2 separate regions of the Homo sapiens genome follow, and region 2 is linked to region 1. The links come from fine-mapping of genetic effects on gene expression. A gene starts in region 1. The other region holds a variant in brackets. All regions are shown on one strand. Distances are between the middles of the regions.

Region 1 (2,903 bases):
ATTTGGAGGACTCACTTCCAACTTGGAACACAAGCTGCAAAGGAATTCCCTACCAGCATGCCAGCACATCATTTGGAAGTTCAAGGTATTCTTGCTCAACAGCTGCACACACATTAAAAGTCCCTGGGGTACATGGCGCCTGCTGCCTGGGGTTGGACTCTGTCGCCGGGGATTCCAGAAATTAGAGTAGAATTCACAGCTCTGCCTCTCCACCTGCTGTGAGGTCTTCAAGTTACAACTCCGCCGCCTATCAGGGACCTCCGTGATTAGTAAGGGAGAAATTGTCATATTTTTCTCCCTAGATCACAGGTCTGAGGAAGCAGTTTCCCCAAGATTTTGTAAAAGTGGCTTTATAATTAAAAACATTGATTTTCCTATTAGAAAGGCTACTATATCCTTTGGAAAAAGCTTAGAAGTAGTCCGTGAGTCTTGGCTTCTTGCCGTGGCTCCCCCAGGATATGATCTTGGGCGAGTAACCCAGCAGCCCTGACTCTGCTTCCCCACTTATTAAACAGGTTACTAACACTGTCCTATCAGGTAGGACAATGAGAAGGAAAGAACCAAACAAGAGGAGTATCAGACGAGACCACCAGACTTAAGATCTAAAATCCGGCGTCCTCTGGAGGGCGGATGAGAAGAGGGGTACACTTGGCGGTCTGGAAAATGTCCTGGGGCCAGTTTCAGGTTTAGGAGCTTGTGGGTAGCGTGGTTTCCCACACGCTGCCTGGCTTCCTACTCTCCCCCGCAGGGGCTGCCTCTCCTCCCACCCCGGAAGGCCGGCACCGGCTTCCCGCACTCGCTGAAGCCCGCACGGAGGCCGGGTGAGCCTGCCGCGGCCTCCCCCTCCCACGCCCCGACGCCATGGGCCCTGCTCCTCTCCGCAGACGCTGCCCTCCCGCCTCAGGCCCCGGGCCCCGGGCACCGGGCCCGCCCTGCGTCCTGAACCTCGGCATCCCGCTCTCCGGTCCACGGGACCCTGCTCTGCGGACCGCCGACCTCTCCGCTCGCGGCTGGCCTCCCTCGGGGCCCGGGCCGGCCAGGCCTGCTCATTTCCTTGGCGGCCGCTGGCATAAGGCGGCCACACGGAGGGCCCGGGACAGCGGTCTGATGGCGCAGCCCCGCCTTGCCCCGGCGCTCTGACCCGGCCAGCGGCCTCACTCACCGCAGCGGCGCGTGCCCGCAGACAAAGGCCGGCGCCGAGCCCGCAGCAGCGCCAGCGCCGGCGCCGGCGGAATGGACTACAACTCCCAGGAGTCTCCCCGCGAGCCCGCCCGCCGGGCCGTGGGTCTCGGCGGCCCCGGCTTCCCAAGAGCTCTGTGGGAAATGTAGTTCTCTGGCGCGCCCTGCGCTCGGGCCCCGCAGGTCCCTAGGGCGCGGGGACCTCAAGCCGTCCCGTTTGGACTGGTAATCCGGAGACTCACAGCGGTGACCTGTCAGCGGACGCGGAGCCGGGACGGAGCCACGGCCGCTCAGATTAGCAGGATCTGATTGACAGCATCGGGGTAGCAGACGCTGAGCCAGGGACTCAGGAATACAGGGTTCTTGCAGGGCGTCGCGGAAGGAAACGAAGTTTTTGGGAGAAATCCGTTTGATAAAGCCTTGGCGGCTTCGAGGTCATGTGTTGAGCCTCTGGCTGCATGAACAAAAGCGAAGCCCGCTTTCATGGAGCTTCTGTGAAGAGCAACAGGAACACAGGCAGTCCAGTCGTCCTGAGATACTGGGAGGAGCATGGTTGCTTTTGAACACGTAGGAGATAAAGCCTCTCTAATAATGCCTGTTTTTTTTTTTCCTTCACTCTGTCTCCCAGGCTTGAGTGCAGTGGCACGGTGTCGCCTCACTGCAACCTCCGCCTTCTGGGCTCAAGTGATTCTCCTGCCCCAGCCTCCCAAGTAGCTGGGACTACAGGTCTGTGCCACCATGCCTGGCTAATTTTTTTGTATTTTTAGTAGAGATGAAGGTTTTACCATGTTGGCCAGGCTGTCTGATATGCCTTAAGCCTCTTTTAAACGCACTTTTCCAGGATCGGGGCCACATCCTGGAGCTGTTCTGCCTGGCCGGGTGTATCTCTGGGTCCCTGCCTCTGGAGCCCCTCTCCGTAGATGTGTCTGTCCATCCTCTTTCGTGAAGGACTAATAAAGAATGCTTCCTCTTGCTATGTTCTTGTTCTCTACCCCAAAGCCACAGATTTGTTAAATCAAACAACTTAATTTCACTCAATATGCAAAGGTGTCTGTAAGTAATAAGTTGATTCCTAAATGTTAGCTTTTACTATTGCACATCATTTCTGAATTTCATTCAACATTTATCCGTTGAATCCATTTTAAGTGCTGACACTGGGGATACGAATGTGAGCAAGACACACTCCGTGCTCCTAGGGAGGAGCTGACAGTCTGGTGGAGCAAACAAACACCACCTTCCTCACATGGGGGTCGGGGTGTTGCACAGCTAAGTCCCAGAGTGTGTGGTGCAAACTGTCCTGAAGCTCCCCATTCCTGAACTGCCCCAGGTGGCTCCTCTCCTCACTCCTCCCAAGTCTGAGAAAGGGGTGGAGGGCGGCACACAGCAAAGGCCAAGGCTCAGAGTCCTAAGGCTGCGGCCTCTGCTTCACACAAGGGTACATAGGTTCTGTTAAGGTCAAGACCGGCTGTGGACACTAGGACAAGTTTCAGATCCTGCCGTGAAGGTACATGACAAAGCATTGGTGGGAAAAGGTGGCTGTGAGGGGGGACCATCGTCACTTTTATAGATCTGCATAAATTCCCTTAAGGCGTCTCAGGAAAGTGGACACATTGAAGGGCCCAAAGCAGGGGAGAAAGCTGTTAGGATTGGGGTTGATGTGACCCCAGCCTCCATAGACAGACTGCCCAGCTGCAAAATGGGGCACATCCTCACCCACCACCTGC
Region 2 (2,903 bases), 54 kb before region 1:
AAGTAACCTGTGCGTGCAGTTTTTGAGGTAGGTCTCTCCCTAACAAGGGAACTGGACGGTTTAGGAGCTATAGGAATTCATGCTGAACTTTTCATCCTCCTATAACACTCCTCCTTGACTGGCAGAATGGCCTCTTCTCTGAGACTCCAGTAGCCCCTGCAATAGTTTTATAGTTCTTGGATAATGGCACTAAGGGTTGAGTTACTACAGAGTGTTCAGCCCCAGTATCTACCATAAAGTCCATCAATTGTCCTCCAACTTCTAATGTGACCATAAGCTCCTGGAGGCCCAATGAGAATGATCCTGGTCTGTCCTAGTCCTCATATCCTTCAGCCCCTGCCAGCCCGATTAGATCAGTATCTGGTTCCTCTAGGGTGCAGCAGCCCCTGGCCAATGGCCTCTTTGTCTCACAGCCTTGGCCATTTCCCTCATTGCCTTTTGGACATTCATCCTTCTAGTGTTCCTTCTTTTTACACTGTGCACATTGATCCTTCTCTAGCCTTGGTCAGCTCTTGAATCCCTGTCTAACTAGACCTCTTCCACATCCACGTCCATGTCCATGTCCTCTCACATTACTAATCTCTCTTTCTATAAGGGCTGCTGCCAACAAATTGGCCTTTTTCTTAAGCCTCTGATCTGCTTCCTTCTTTGCCTCCTGGTCACAGTTAACATACACCTTAGTGGCCACTTCTATAAGCTGGGTGGCATTCATGCCTGAGAAGCCTCCCAGTTTCTGAAGCTTTCACTTTATGTCACCCTGGGCCTGTCCTATAAATGATGTATTTACCATATGCTGATGTTCAACAGCCTCAGGGACAAATGGGGTGAAAAGCTGGTATACCCCACAGAGTCTTTCATAAAACTGGCTAGGGCTCTCATCACTTCCCTGAAGCACCTCTGAGATCTTTCCTATATTGATTGCCTCTTTTCCACCATCCCTTAGCCCTTGCAGAAGTGCCTCTTAGTACCTCTGCAAATGCTGAAGCTGGGTCACATCTTCCAGGTCCCAGCTGGGATCTTGGTCTGGGAACTGGCCCGGAGTGTATGCCTGAGCATTCACTGTGTCTGCTGGTGCATGGGCTTCAAGCTGGTGGAGAGCTGCCTGGGTTACTCTCCTGTGTTCCTCAGTGTTAAACAGTGTGAGAAGAAGCTGCCTGCAGTTTGGCCAGGTTAGATTGTGTGTCAGAAGGATGGACTGCATCAGATCTATAAGAGCTTGGGGATTCTCCATATAGGAGGGAGTATGGTGTTTCCAGTTTAAGAGATCAGTGGTTGAAAAGGGCTGATAGATGCAAGTCCGTTGCCCCCCCTGGACTTGGCCTTGGTCATCACAATAAATGGGTCCTCACGTCTCCCTGAGAGGCACTTGCATAGCTTAAGCATGGTCAGATCTGAGACGGCCTGCTTGACTATCTTGACTTCCTTCCCTGGCCTCTCGAGGCTCCGATCCTTCCCTTTGGGGTGAAACCTGGGGTGTGCTAGCTCCTGAATTTCGTTCTTGGGGGGCTGTTGGCCTCAGCAAAGGGTGGAACACATGGAGGAAGAATCTCTGCTCCTTCTGGCAGCTCCTGCAAGACTGGCTTCTTTTGCTTCCTCTGG[G/T]ACTTTCCCTTTAACTCTGTGTCTGCCAGCGAAGCTGCTCTTACTTTCATTTTTGGCTCAGCTCAGGCCACAAGTGTTTTCTGATAAGCTGCTAAACAGGGCTGGATCCAGGCCAGTCTTGTTTGTACTATATTTAACCATGAGTCAATATAAGAAATTGATCTGGATGCCCAGGCTGTCCTCCGACCCCTGTCACCACCTTAAATACATGGCCAATTATTTCCCTGTCTATAGTTCCTTTGGTCAGCCATCCAATACCAAAAGGAGGCCATTCTAATTCACAGAGAGTTCTCAACCTTTGGGGGGTCAGCTTAACTCCATAATCCCCTGCAAAATATTTCTTAAAGGTCTGTAACTTGCACTCCAATGGAGTGGGTTTTGATGACTTTCCTTCCATTCCTCCCTTTGTGGCGCAGTACACTCACTGTTCCTTTTGCCTCAGGCTGACCAGACTGTCTCCTATTGAGGGAGTTTTCAGATGCCGCTTAGCTTTGGAGGGGTTCTTATTCCCACCACAACTCTGAGCTGTGGGGCAGCTCCTATTAGTTGCATGCAGCTTGCCACTAGTCCAGGTCAGCCCCACACTTTGCTTGGAGCACACAGTGCACGCTAAGAGATTTATGACTCCCCACATCACTCCCCGCATTGGTTCCTTTTGAAACTGTTTCTTTCACACACTTTCACACACCTCCCCACTCCCAGTTCCTGTGTTCCTATTTAGGGTAGTGAGCCACTCTCACCACCTCCAATTTCCTTTTCCTAACCAACTTAGTGAGCCACTCTCGCATCCTGTGTTGGTTGGGGTGTGAGTTTAATCTAAATTGGTGAGCCACTCTCACTGCTCCCTACCTCTCTGGGTCGGATTATGAGTTACACCCCAGGAGGTGATCAGGCTCCCCTTCTGTCCTTATGGAACAGGTCCTGCCTTGGGCCCCAATACCTTACCGTGGTTCCTGAAGCATGCTGCTCCTGGTAATCCTCCTGTAGCCCCTCTCAGGTTCTGTTGCACTGCTGGGTAGGGGCACTGGGTCACAGGAGAGCCTATCTCCCCTCTGGGCTGAAGTTCTCCCAGCCACGCCTGGGGTCACAGTTTTCCCTTGACCCGGGGCTCCAGCCCCACAGGCAAAGGAGATAGTAAGCCTGTCATCTCCACTCCTGGCTGGCTTGCCAAAATGTTGTGGTAAACTGAGGACCAGAGAGATCGAAATGGGGAATATAAGAGGATGTTTATTTAAGGCACGCACCGGCTCAGTGGATTCACATCCAAAAACTAAGCATTGAACAAAACAGAGTTTAGCTTATAT

What was found. PIP is the estimated chance that this variant, and not a neighbour inherited with it, causes the effect.
Region 2: its variant is fine-mapped to the expression of ZNF32 in whole blood (TOPMed, PIP above 0.99).

What each region holds. Positions count from the first base shown.
Region 1 is chr10:43,647,640-43,650,542 of GRCh38, forward strand. ZNF32 (zinc finger protein 32) reads right to left here and starts at 1,242. Exons shown (of 3, transcript NM_006973.3): 1 at 1,163-1,242. The region is part of intron 1 of ZNF32-AS3 (ZNF32 antisense RNA 3); the gene reads left to right. It overlaps ZNF32-AS2 (ZNF32 antisense RNA 2), which reads left to right. Exons shown (of 3, transcript NR_047558.1): 3 at 1-380. RefSeq lists a silencer at 748-1,267.
Region 2 is chr10:43,593,751-43,596,653 of GRCh38, forward strand. No RefSeq gene overlaps it. Among named protein-coding and RNA genes, the nearest start is that of ZNF485, 11 kb to the right of the region's middle. RefSeq lists an enhancer at 1,806-1,885. The variant G/T (reference allele first, on the strand shown) is at 1,600.